2 linked regions of the Homo sapiens genome follow. The protein of the gene in region 1 interacts with the protein of each later gene in a biochemical or structural test. Each region holds a gene or a part of one and is shown on either strand. Other genes may lie near its edges.

What was found. The genes of interacting proteins can lie anywhere in the genome.
Region 2: the proteins of CHEK2 (region 1) and AATF form a complex in vitro, tested with the Homo sapiens proteins (one study listed by BioGRID and IntAct).

The regions. Positions count from the first base shown.
Region 1 is NC_000022.11:28,724,821-28,731,820, reverse strand, and holds part of CHEK2 (serine/threonine-protein kinase Chk2), read left to right. Parts: intron 1-1,272; coding exon of another isoform or gene 1,273-1,401; intron 1,402-6,453; coding exon 6,454-6,578; intron 6,579-6,696; coding exon 6,697-6,844; intron 6,845-6,897; coding exon of another isoform or gene 6,898-6,935; intron 6,936-7,000. UniProt on the Homo sapiens protein: Serine/threonine-protein kinase which is required for checkpoint-mediated cell cycle arrest, activation of DNA repair and apoptosis in response to the presence of DNA double-strand breaks.
Region 2 is NC_000017.11:36,986,937-36,993,972, reverse strand, and holds part of AATF (protein AATF), read right to left. Parts: intron 5,455-7,036; coding exon 5,253-5,454; intron 4,727-5,252; coding exon 4,562-4,726; intron 3,200-4,561; coding exon 3,116-3,199; intron 1-3,115. UniProt on the Homo sapiens protein: Part of the small subunit (SSU) processome, first precursor of the small eukaryotic ribosomal subunit.

The DNA.
Region 1 (7,000 bases):
TGCAGGGGCTCTCAACTGTAATCCCAGCTCTTAGAGCAGCAGAGGTGGGAGGATAGCTTGAACCCAGGAGTTTGAGACCTGCTGGGCAATATAGCGAGACCCCATTCTCCACAAAAAGGAAAAACAAAAAAAGACAAGTAAACAAAGATCCTGATAGGATGACCAGCATAAAGTAGGTGCTGAATAAATAGAGACTGTTTATCATTATTATTATTATTATTATTTGAGACGGAGTCTCACTCTGTCACCCAGGCTGGAGTGCAGTGGTACGATCTTGGCTCACTGCAACCTCAATCTCCTGGGTTGAAGCCATTCTCCTGCCTCAGCCACCTGAGTAGCTGGGATTACAGGTGCCCACCACCGTGGCTAAGTTCTGTATTTTTTAGTAGGGACGGGTTGTCATCATATTGGCCAGGCTGGTTTCAAACTCCTGACCTCAGGTGATCTGCCCGCCTTGGCCTCCCAAAGTGGTGGGATTACAGGCGCGAGCCACCACGTCTGGCCGAGGCTGTTTATTATTATTATTTGTTAATTATTTATACCTATGTTTTCTTTTAAAATTTTACAGTTTTAATTCCTTTTTTTAAATTTTTGTTTGTTTGTTTGTTTGTTTATTTTGAGACAGGATCTCACTCTGTCATCCAGGCTGGAGTGCAGTGGCACAATCTCAGCTCACTTCAGCCTCTGCCTCCCAGGCTCAAGCAATTCTCCCACTTCAGCCTCCTGAGTAGCTGGGACCACAGATGTGCACCACCACTCCCAGCTAACTTTTTGTATTCTTGGTGGAGATGGGGTTTCATCATGTTGCAGTCTGGTCTCAAACTCCTGAGCTCAAGCAATACATCCATCTTGGCTTCCCAAAGTGTTAGGATTACAGGCATAAGCCACAGTGCCTGGCCTAGTTTTAGCTCTTATGTTTAATTAAGGTCCTTTATTCATTTTAAGTTTTATTTATTTATTTATTGAGACGGAGCCTTGCTCTGTCACCAGGCTGGATTGCAATGTCATGATCTCGGCTCACCGCAACCTCCTCCTCCCGGTTTCAAGCGATTCTCCTGCCTCAGCCTCCCAAGTAGCTGGGATTACATGCTTATGCCACCATGCCTGGCTAATTTTTGTATTTTTAGTAGAGATGGGGTTTCACCATGTTGGCCAGGCTGGTCTCGAACTCCTGCCCTCGGGTGATCCACCCGCCTCGGCCTCCCAAAGTGCTGGGATTACAGGCATGAGCCACCGTGGCTGGCCTAACTTTTTTATTTTTATTTTTTGTAGAGACAGAGTCTGGCCATGTTACCCAATCTGATCTTGAACTCCTGCTGTCATCTGATCCTCCTGCCTCAGCCTCCCAAAGTGCTGGGATAAGAGGTGTGAGGCACCATCCCCGGCCAGTTTGCAGTCTAAGTATGATGTTAGCTGTGGGTCTTTCCCTTTCCCTTTCTCTTTCCCTTTTCCTTTTCCTTTCCCCTTTCCCCTTTCTTTTTTCCTTTCCTTTCCTTTCCCTTCTGCTTTCCTTTCCCTTCCGCTTTCCTTTCCTTTCCCTTCCGCTTTCCTTTCCTCCCCTCCCCTCCTCTCCTCTCCTCTTTTCTTTCCTCTTCTCTCTCCTCTTCTCTCTTCCTCTCTCCTTTCTCCTCTGATATCTGAAGACTAAGCTGTGGATGTTTCATAAAAGTTCTTTCTGGGGTGGGTGCAGTGGCTCATGCCTGTAATCCAAGCACTTTGGGAGGCTGAGGTGGGCGGATCACAAGGTCAGGAGATCGAGACCATCCTGGCCAACATGGTGAAACCCCGTCTCTACTAAAAATACAAAAACAAAATTAGCCGGGCGTGGTGGCAGGAGCCTGTAGTTCCAGCTAGTTGGTGATAGAGTGAGACTCTGACTCAAAAGAAAAAAAAAATGCTTTCTGGCTGGTTGCTCTGACTCTTTCACCCTATAATCTCAGTGCTTTGGGAGCCTATGGCAGGAGAAGTGCTTAAGGCCACGAGTTGGAGACTGCAGCAAGCTATGATTGCAGGCCACAGAGCAAGACTTTGCCTCTAAATTAAAAATAAATAGATAATAAATAAAATAAAAGCTCTTTATTAGGTTGAAGGAGTTTACTCCTATTCCTAGTTTTCTGAGTATTTTTTGTTATAAAAGGGTGTTGCATTTTGCCAAAATTTTTTTCTGTGTCTATTTTCCTATATTCTATTGTTATCGTGTATTATATTAATTGGTTTTCAGATGTTAAACCAACCAAGCTTTCCTGGGTTAATTCTTTTTTTTTTTTTTTTTTTTTTTTTGAGATGGAGTCTCGCTGTCGCCCAGGCTGGAGTGCAGTGGCGTGATCTCGGCTCACTGCAGGGTCTGCCCCCTGGGGTTCACGCCATTCTCTTGCCTCAGCCTCCCGAGTAGCTGGGACTACAGGCGCCCGCCACCTCGCCCGGCTAATTTTTTGTATTTTTAGTAGAGACGGGGTTTCACCGTGTTAGCCAGGATGGTCTCCATCTCCTGACCTCGTGATCGCCCGCCTCGGCCTCCCAAAGTGCTGGGAATACAGATGTGAGCCACCGCGCCTGGCGTCCTGGGTTAATTCTTGTTTGGTCATTTGTAATCTTTTTTATGTGTTGCTGGATTTAGTTTGCTACTGTTTTGTTGAGGATTTTTATATCTATATTCACAAGGGATATTGGTTTGTGGTTTTACTGTGATGTCTCTGTCTGGTTTTGGTATGCTGGCCTCATAGATGAGTTGACAGTGTTCCGTTCCGAATTTCTTCGAAAAGTTTGAGAATAATTGGTATTAGTTCTTTACATATTTGATAGAATTTAAAATGAAGCCAGCCGTGTGTTTCTTTTTTCTTTTTTTTGAGACAGGGTCTCACTCTTACCCACGCTGGAGTGTTACCCACTATCACGTTTCACTGCAGGCTTGACCTCCCAGGCTCAACTCCTACCTCAGCCTCCTGAGTAGCTGGGACCTCAGGCATGTGCCACCATGTGTGGCTAATTTTTTTATTTTGATAGAGATGGGGTGTCCCTATGTTGCTCAAGCTAAAGTGAGGCAATCTGGGACTGCACTTTTCTTTGTAGGGATATTTTGATTACTCATTCAGTCTTTTGTTTTGTTTTGTTTTTTTGGAGACAGAGTCTCTCTCTCTGTCACCCAGGCTGGAGTGCAGTGGCACAATATTGGCTCACTGCAGCCTCTGCCTCACAGGTTCAAACGATTCTTGTGCCTCAGCCTCCAGAGTAGCTGGGACTACAGGGGCGCGCCACCACACCTGGCTAAATTTTTTTTTGTTTTGTTTTTAGTAGAGACGGGATTTTGCCATGTTGCACAGGCTGGTCTCAATCTCCTGAAGTCAAGCAATCCGCCTGCCTTGGCCTCCCAATGTGCTAGGATTATCATTCAGTCTTTTCACTTCTTATGGGTATATTCAGATTTTCTGTTTCTTCTTGTGTTAGTTTTGGTAGTTTGTATCTTTCTAGGAGTTTGTCCATTTCACCTATGTCATCTAATACTGTCACACAATTGTTCAATTATTCTTTTTAAATCATTTTTATTTCTGTCAGATCAGTAGTAATTATCTCTCTCATTCTAATTTTAGTAATTTGAGTCTTGTCTCTTTTTTTCTTGTTCAGTCTGTCTAAGGTTTGCCAACTTGTTGATCTTTTTAACTAACTAAATTTGGATTTGTTAATTTTCTTTTTCTTTCTAGAGATAGGGTCTCACTCTCACTCTGGAGTGAGTGGTGCAACCACAGCTTAGTGCAGCCTCGACCTTCAGGCTCAAGTGATCCTCCTTCCTTGGCCTCCCAAAGTACTGGGATTACAGGTGTGAGCCATCGTGCCCAGCCCATATGTAATTTTGATAGATCTTGCTAAATTGTCCTCCCTAGACAATTATAGACAATGTGTGTATAAATTATATTCCCAATGGCAATGTATGAGAGTACCCGCTTTTTCATACCTCTTGCCAGCACAGGGTGATATGAAACTTTTGGATTTTTGCCAATCTAATAGGTAAAACATGAAATCTTAATGTGTTTTTGATTTCTGAATTTTCTTATATTGGGTTAGCTTGGCCACCTTTCATATGTTTGAGCCAGCTGTATTTCTGTTTCTTGTAAATTATCTTTTCATATCCTTTACCTATTTTTCTACTGGACTGTTTAGCGTTTTCACTGATTTATAGGAACCTAACATTTATTAGGGAAATTATTCCTTTTCCTGATAGGAGTTGCTAGTATTTTCCCTAGTCTGCCTTGCAATGAACATTTAATTACCTGCCATGTGCAATATCCCAAGTGCTGGAGTTGTACTGTTAAACAAGAGGTCTCCAGCTGCCCTCCTGGAGGTTATGTTCTAATGCAGGGAGGTGGGGAGAAAATATACAAATAAGCAAGGTAATTTCCAGCCGTGGCCCATACCCAAAAAGATATAAAACAGGATAACATTATGATAACAGGTGAGTAATGTTTATATAACAAGCTGAGCGGGAGGCCGGGTGTGGTGGCGCATGCCTGTTATCCCAGCACTTTGGGAGGCCGAGGCGGGCGGATCACAAGTTCAGGAGATCGAGACCATCCTGTCTAACATGGCGAAACCCCGTCTCTACTAAAATTACAAAAAATTAGCTGGGCATGGTGGCACGTGCCTGTAGTCCCAGCCACTCGGGAGGCTGAGGCAGGAGAATCGCTTGAACCTGGGAGGTGGAGGTTGCAGTGAGCCGAGATCGCGCCACCGCACTCCAGCCTGGGCGACAGAGCGAGACTCCATCTCAAAGAAAGAAAGCTGAGTGGGAGATGATAGTAGAGTCCTAAAGGCAGATAGTGTTGTGTAGATAGTATCTGTTATACAAAAGGCAAGGTGGAATGAGCCATTTGTGTAGTTGGGGAAGAAGTGCTAAGACCACAAGGCAGATTGAACCCAGCATTCTTGGGGGCAGTGAAAGGAGGCCAGTGGTGCTGGGTGTCATGAGCAAGGGGAGAGGGGTATGAGGTGGGGCTGGAATGGTGGCAGACGCCAGACCCTGAGCATCTAGTAGGCCATGAGGAAGAGTGCAGATTTTATGCTAAGTGTCATGGAAAACCTCAGGAAGGTAATAAGCAGGAAATTACTGTATTGCAAGTAATTTTCCAAGTCATTAAAAATTACTCGAGAACTTTTAATGACTATTTGTTATTTCACGGTTTTATATATATATGTATGTGTATGTGTGTGTTTGTGTATATAAATACATATATTAATAGATTATAATATATATTATATATTATTATATATTTAGATATAATTACTATATTATAAATATATAATATATGTTATATTGTGTATAAATATATAATTATATTTAAGACAACTTATAAAATAAATTTATATAACATGTATAATAAATACAAATTATATATATTATATATAATAAATATAAAATAAATATATAATATATATTAAATATTTGTTTATTTATTTTTTTGAGACAGGGTCTTGCTCTGTTGCCCAGGTTGGAGTACAGTGGCAGGATCACAGCCCATTGTAGCATCAGCTTATCTTGCTCAAGTGATCCTCCTCCTTCAGCCTCCTGAGTAGCTGGACTACAGGCATGCACCACCACATCTGGTTAATTGTTTTTTGTTTTTTTTCAGACAGAGTCTTGCTTTGTCGTCCAGGCTGGAGTGCAGTGGCGCAATCTTGGCTCACTGCATCCTCCACCTCCCAGGTTCAAGCAATTCTCTGCCTCAGCTTCCCGAGTAACTGGGATTACAGGCACCCGCCACCACGCCCAGCTAATTTTTGTATTTTTTAGTAGAGACAGGGTTTCACCATCTTGGCCAGGCTGGTCTTGAACTCCTGACCTCGTGATCCATTCGTCTCAGCCTCCCAAAGTGCTGGGATTACAGGCATGAGCCACCACACCTGGCCATTTTTTTTTTTTTGAAACTGGGTCTCACTCTGTCGCCCAGGCTAGTGTGCAGTGGCGCAGTCTCAGCTCACTGCAGCCTCGACCTCCTGGGCTCAAGCGATCCTCCCACCTCAGCCTCCTGAGTAGCTGAGACCACAGGGACCCACCACCACACCCTGCTGATTTTTTATTTTTTGTAGAGATAGGGTTTCACCATGTTGCCCAGACTAATTTTTAAATTCTTGGTAGAGATGGGTGCCCCCTATGTTGCCCAGGCTGGTCATGAGCTCCTGGGGTCAAGTGATCCTCCTGCCTTAGCCTTCCAAAGGGCTGAGATTACAGGTGTGAGCCACTGTGCCTGGCCATGTGGTTATAGATAAACTGCCATTTGTTAAACTCATTGGTAATGTTGTTTTTTCTCTCCTAATTTTTAATCTTGTAAAATCTTGATAAGCAGATTGATAATTCTGATTGCCTTCTTAGGCTATTTTCCTACAATTAGCATTTATGAGCAATTTTTAAACGTTTGATACATGAAATTCAACAGCCCTCTGATGCATGCTTTTATATTACAGAATGTGTGAATGACAACTACTGGTTTGGGAGGGACAAAAGCTGTGAATATTGCTTTGATGAACCACTGCTGAAAAGAACAGATAAATACCGAACATACAGCAAGAAACACTTTCGGATTTTCAGGGTAGGTAATGAATACCCATGTATCTAGGAGAGCTGGTAATTTGGTCATTGTTTTTAGATATTTTCCCACTATAAATCTCTGCTATTCAAAGTCTGAAACAAAATGTTCTCTATTTTAGGAAGTGGGTCCTAAAAACTCTTACATTGCATACATAGAAGATCACAGTGGCAATGGAACCTTTGTAAATACAGAGCTTGTAGGGAAAGGAAAACGCCGTCCTTTGAATAACAATTCTGAAATTGCACTGTCACTAAGCAGAAATAAAGGTAATATTATTATCTTATGGTTACTGGAATTTTTTTTTTCCACTCTCTCATAGGAGGAAAATTTGTCCTGTCCTTACAGAATATGGTTTAAGTGAGTAAAGATGAGTAAGTTGCTGGGCGTGGTGGCTCACACCTGTAATCCCAGCACTTTGGGAG
Region 2 (7,036 bases), on another chromosome or scaffold:
ATATTTTGAAAGATATGGTAACTTAAAGCCCATTAAGAAACAAAGAATGAAAGTGTGAATGAGTATGTGTGTGTAGAGGGGGAGTGTTCTGAGCCCACACATCATTCTCAGTAGTTAGGGCATTCACACAGCTTCAAGACACCTGAATTAACCAAGTAAGCCTTTAAACCCTTACAATGGAACATTAAAATTCAATGTGGCTATAATCTCTTCCTTACAAAACATGAACCCAAAGAGTCTGGCTTCAAGTATGGTTTTAAAAAAGGGGGAATGTATTATATTCACCACCCAGCTCTTCCATATGACCATGTTAAAAAAAACCACACAAATGAAAACTCACAGGCCCATTGTAATATATTGAACCACTTCTGAATGCAACACTTAGCTCAGGCTTACTACTCTGACAAATAAAGGAAAGCACTTTATGAAGCCAATTTAATTGGGAAGTGACAGAAAACATACAGCCATTTTCTTTAGCCTTATCACTGAATTGGCTTCAGCTCCAATCTCTGGCAAATCCCACTCAACAGAAGAAATTAACCAGGTCAGCAGAACAGGTGCTACCTTGTGTCTGTCAAGGGCCTGGCATCACCACAATTACTTGCACACAATGAAGCAGTAATCTTTACAGATCATCTCTCCCAAGAAGCATATTTGGGAGGGGGAGGAAAACTGAAGGGTGAGGGGAGTGGGAAGAAGAAGGGGAATGGGAAGCAAAGAGAAAAGGCAAGAAAAGAAAATGAATGTGCAGCTGCCTTGCAGCTCAGCAGATGTCGGAATGTGATGTACGAGGCTAGGATAAGCTGTCGTAGCCCGCTGCCAAAGAGTGGTAAGTGATTAAAACCTGCACAGTTCTAAGCACCATATTTAGAATCTGCAGGGTTTCAAGACTTGCACCCATTCCTTGCTGTGCTGCCAGATGTTGGCAACTGGTCCAGTTCCTACTGACTGTGCATGGATGGCAGCAGTTGGTGTAGCAGCAAAGCAATCTGGAATGCTTCCGGAGATGCTGTACATTAACAAGTGTCACCCATCATTCACCTTTACAGAAGGCTGAAACAACTCCAATTTGCTGCCACTTCCCTCTTGGGAAACAGCCAAGATAAAGTTGTGCCTGGCAGCCCCATTTGTTTCACTCAGGTGTTTTAGCTGCCTTGCTGACCTCTATTAGTTTAAGTTTTAATTTAGATTAACCCCAGCACCCCAATTAACCAGCAAGGGGAAAAGCTAAGATGTGACTAGTCATAACTCTGAAATCAGAATTTATCGAAGTTAAAATTATTAATTGGGATGAAGGGCCAATCAAGTAATGCTATTTCTTTTTAAACAGACCTCCAGGCAAAAAAAAAAAAAAAAAATTCAGACTAAGGATTGCCAACAGAGGCAACTTCTCCCCAGTAATTTCACTTTATTTTATTAAGCCTATTTAATTTATGATGCACTTTTCATCGAACAATGTACACTTCAATTAATGAGGACTGGAACATTTTTGATTGTCTCCCGTGATCTCACACAATTATACAGCATTAATATCCCATATCAGGTACTTCCTTAGACACTCTAGAACAAAATAGAGTTCCTTACTCTTCTGACAAATGAATATAATAAGAGAAGAGGAAAAAAGAATCAGGACCTCTGACAGGGAACAGCTGCAGCCACACCAATCTTTTTTTCCTATACCCTCTAGTCATTACTTTTAAGACTTACTTATGGCAATAATTTTATCAAACATTATAGAATGAATAAAAAAAATTAATAGAAAGTCTCTTTCTCTTTTTAGGGCAAGACCAGAGGTATCCCCAATATAAAATCACTTGTTCTATATTGACTTTACATGTAATTTTCCTAAGAAGTTCTTCTTCATATCCATATACACAGTACAGCAGTCATGGCTAAACCCTCAACAAGCAGTCGCAAATTACTTGGCTAAAGCTAGCACATTAAAAATTTGACAGAGAAAAAAATTATCTTGATAAACAATGGCTCAACAATAACTGGTATATCACTGCTGAACAGCTTCCTCTATTCTCCACTAAGCTAGAAAGGGTACAGCCAAACACACACTCTATTAAGAAGTATAATTTGTCTGGCCGGGTGCAGTGGCTCAAGCCTGTAATCCCAGCACTTTGGGAGGCTGAGGCAGGGAGATCACGAGGTCAGGAAATTGAGACCCTCCTGGCTAACACGGTGAAACCCCGTCTCTACTAAAAATACAAAAAATTAGCCAGGCCTGGTGGCGGGCGCCTGTAGTCCCAGCTACTCGGGAGGCTGAGGCAGGAGAATGGCGTGAACCCAGAAGGCAGAGCTTGCAGTGAGCCGAGATTGCGCCACTGCACTCCAGCCTGGGTGACAGAGCGAGACTCCATCTCAAAAAAAAAAAAAAAAGTATAACTTATCAAGAGACTCAGGAATACAGGAAGTTATTTCAGTTCTCTAGAACAGCCCAAATGTTTAGTCTATCTTAACAGTCTCTGGCATCATTAAAAAGAACAGCATGCCAGCAGAGAGTAATGTCAGGGAAAGAAGTGGGGGAGTCTGAAAACATATTGAGAACTGGACTATATTTCAACTTCTACCAATTCTCTCTGTCTTCAAAAGCACTATGCTCTTATTATAATCAACAGTTGCAGACATTCTCAATACATACTTAACTGACTTCGACAGGCACAAAAAGACATTAAGAACAAGATTTAACAGATAATAGGATCAGTAGCGCAATTCAGGAACTCTGGGATCCCAGCCCTCCAGCTCCACGGCCCATTCTAATAGTAATGAGACAAGAAACCAAATAACTTAACAAATCCTCCATCATCAAAAATGGCTCAGAAAGAACCCACTTGACTCAGAGAAAAAAACCTGAAACTGTTTTACAGCTAATTTACACTCAAGCAACAACAAAGTAGCTATAGCTGTTTTCATTTCAAAAGGAAAACATAAAATAGAAGAAAAGCAACAAATCCACAATGACACTGTAAGTCAATTTTGAACGCGGGAGTTCTAACTCACTGTCTGACTCTATCCTTCCAAAATAAGCAACTTCTTTGTTCAGAGAATTCTATAAGCTGCTTTAAAATGCTAAAACATGATTTGTAACAAGAGAGTGTAAAAGTCTCACCTGGTGGTAAAAGTCATCATCATCAAAGATTTCTTCATCCAAGTCCTTCAGATGAGCATTAGCAGGGGCTTGAGGAAGGATCTCCTATGTTAACAATGAGTAAGAAAAGAGTGAATCCCAACAAGGCTATCTAACTAATGTAGCTACTATAAATAATATGTAGAACAGTCAAAGCACTGTTTTCCTTAAGATATAAAAAGTTCTTAAAATTAAAAAACAAAACAGTCCAATATGAAAACAGGCAAAAACATTAACAGGCAGTTGACCAAAAAAACCCATAAATAATCATATGAAAATATGTTTACCCTCATTCAAATTAAATATGTGTAAATTAGAATTAGAAGATACCATTTTTCACCTCTACGACTGAAATTAATGCAGCCTTTTTGGAGGCAATTTGGCAACATCTATCAGAATTTGGTGTATTTTCTTTAACACTTCCACTTCAAGAAATCTACCCATATATTTATACGAACACATAATACATGTACAGGAATCTTTCCTGTAGCAGTGTTTCTGAAACTGGAGACAACATAATATCCATTGTTTGCATAAATGATAGTGCATATCCATACAATGGAATACTTTGAGGTCATTAGGAAAAATGAGGTAGCTCTCTAGGTAATGAAATGGAAAGAGTATCTAGGACTTATTAGATTTTAAAAGTTGCAAGACTTTAAATACAGTTGTAATATTTTACATATTTATACTACATAAATGTCTCTCATTTAGTAAAAAAGGCAACCATATTTATACATATATATTTGTTATTTGCACACATATATAGTTACACAAATAGAAAAGACCCAAAAACTTGTTACAACTATTAATTATTAACTGTAAACTTGTTACAACTATTAAATACTGAAAATTTCACCTCAGGAGTTACGTTAACAGGCAATTGACAAAAAAAATAAAAAAATTTCACCTCAGGAGTGAAATTTTCAGAGTAGAGAATTTTGCTTTTCATTTTAAGTTGCTATAAACTAAAAAAGGATTAAGTATATATTTCTTCCATAATTAAAAAATTTTAAATGTTTCCTTTAAACAAAAGAATTTGACTATTCCACTTCTGCACCCTTTCTAAAGTACCTAAATGGCAAACGTTGAGCCTAAAGTACACACTTGTTTCAATACTGACATTTCTACAGAAGTAGCTTTAAAACTGAATTTTGAAAATTGGATTATGAATGCTTCTACTACCAGACTCCTGCATCAAACTCAAAATTAAGAGAAGATGACACACAGGAGTTAATAGAAGCCCCATTTTTAAAAACTCTCTCCTCTCACATACACTCAAGTTTCTCTCAGTAATCCAGTAAAGTAGTGTTGCTTTCCTTTCTCTCACTAACCTCTTATATAAACAGGTAATAGCTACAAGTTTTTCAGCTAATAAGCCTCATAGAAACTATTCCCCATAATCACTCTGCATTACAGAGTTCTTACCGGTTCCCCTGGCAAACTCTCTGGGACAGGCTGAGCTGCTGGCTCAGGTTTGCCAAGAACTCGATAGACAGAGCGCTTGGTCTGTGTCCTTCGAAGTAATCTCTCTTTGTCCATCAGAATATGGTCGATCTGAGTCAAGATTGAGCGTTCAAAGGCACCAAAACCCTGCAACAACATTAAGCAGTGTCAGATAATGCAGAAAATCAGTGCTGAAGGCAAGCTACATTGGTTTCTCTATCTTTCTGTGTCAGCAGAGAGATAGAAAATCATCTTTTCAGGAGGGACTTTCTGTAAAGGACTGAGTTTGTGAGTGGCTATAATTGTTCTTAAAAAAAAAAAGTTAGTCTTAAGCAGGTCATATCATTTTTCTACACACGGAGATTAGCTTCTGATACTTTAATAATTATTGCTTTGAAATCCACTCCTTTAAAGTATTTGGATTTTCAGCACTTGAACACTTACAAGGCCTCAATTTTAAGAATAAAACATTCTTTCTAATAAAGTTAAAATCCCAAGTCTGAATCGTATAAACCCCAGTGCCAGAAGTTCAGTAGATTTTGCTATAGAAATGAATGATTACCATTACATCGTGACAACATCCATATAAATGAGCTGTAGTTCCAATTTCTTAAAACTTCTTCAAGTTGCCACAACCTATCTTACACATACATGCGCGCATACACACACTTGCCTTCCCCAGTTTTCCAGAAGCCAGTTTGGTCTTATCGTGCCATTTCTGAAGTGTGCGGTTCCTGTAGACTGTAAAGTCGGCAAAGCGCTTTGCCATGAAGCTGGGATAGTCCTCCATCTCCAGCTTCCTCTTTGCAGGGACCCTTCTTCGTTGCTGCTTCTTCTCTTCTACCAGCTCATCATCTTCACTAGAAATCTCCTCACTAGAAAAGCAGTAAGAATATTATGTCCAGTGTAAACAAACATTACTTAGATTTTAAAAACTAGGCTCACATAAAGGACTGAGAATATTTAGGCCTTACCTGTTCTGTCTCCATTCAAAATAACACCAAAGATATAAGGATGGCTTTTGCTCTTTGAGAAGAATATTCATGAGATCAATCAAAAACTCGTGTAACTTTTTTTTTTGAGACAGTCTTGCTCTGTTGCCCAGGCTGGAGTGCAGTGGCGCGATCTTGGCTCACTGCAACCTCCACTTCTGGGTTCAAGCAATTCTCATGCCTCAGCCTCATGGGTAGCTGGGATTACAGGTGTGTGCAACCATGCCCGACTAATTTTTTTCATATTTTTAGTAAAGATGGTGTTTCACTATGTTGGCCAAGCTGGTTTCAAACTCCTGGCCTCCAGTGATCCACCTGCCTCGGCCTCCCAAAGTGCTGGGATTACAGGGCATGAGCCACCACACCCAGCCTCATGTAACTTTTAAAACAAATATAAAAAGAACTAGTTTCAAAATATTTTTTAAAAGGTAAGTAAACCATAAAAATAAATGAGGTTTTAAAAGAATTATTAGAAATGTGTATGAACCAGGCCTGCAGTATTATAGGACAGTATTTAAAAATTAAACACATAACCATATTTCTACGACCTTAATCCTCAAATCAATAAGGGAAATGTGTCTCTCTGTAACCAACTGTTAAGGAAAGATGAATAATATTAGTTGAACCAAATACAAGAGAAGCTGAATGTGAAGAAAACTCAAAGCGGTAGGCAACAATTAGCACTAACTAACCTGCAGTGCCATCTATGCAACTGCCATGGCAATGTAATACAACCTCCAACTATCTGCCAGTTGCACTCACTGGATTACTGACCTCAACATATAATAGGTGCTCAATAAATGTGAGTTTCCTTTTTGTCCTCCCAACTAGTTCAGTAGATAAAAAGTGAAACAAAAGATAAGCTCGAGGGAAAAAAAGCAAGCAGGTATATACAGCAGGTGTAAACAAAAGGGGGAAAAATCTTCATCAAATGTAATAATTTCAGGGGGAAAAAATAATTATTTTGCTGTTTTCTGAAATTTTTCCATCTTTCATAATAACAGCTTTTATTCAAAGGAGATGGCTGTGACCAGTGATTCCAATATATGGTATGGGCACAGAATGTTTCATAAACATTAATTAAGCATTAATATTTTAAAAATGTGCTTTTGGCCAGGTGAAGTGGCCCATGCTTATAATTCCAGCACTTTGGGAGGCTGAGGTGGAAGGATGGCTCGAGCCCAGGAGTTTGAGACCAGATAGGGAAACACAGCAAGACCCTGTCTCTACAAAAAAAAAAAAAAAAAATAGCCAGGCATGGTGGCAAGTGCCTGCAGTCCCAGCTATTTGGGAGGCTGAAGCAGGAGGACCGCTTAAGCCCAGGAGTTTGAGGCTGCAGTGAGCTGCGATCACATCACTGCACTCCAGCCTGGATGACAGTGTAAGACCCCATCTCTAAAAAACAAAGTGCTTTTATCTTCTAATTCCAATAGATCTAAAGAGAAGGCAAGCCTTTGTCTAAGAC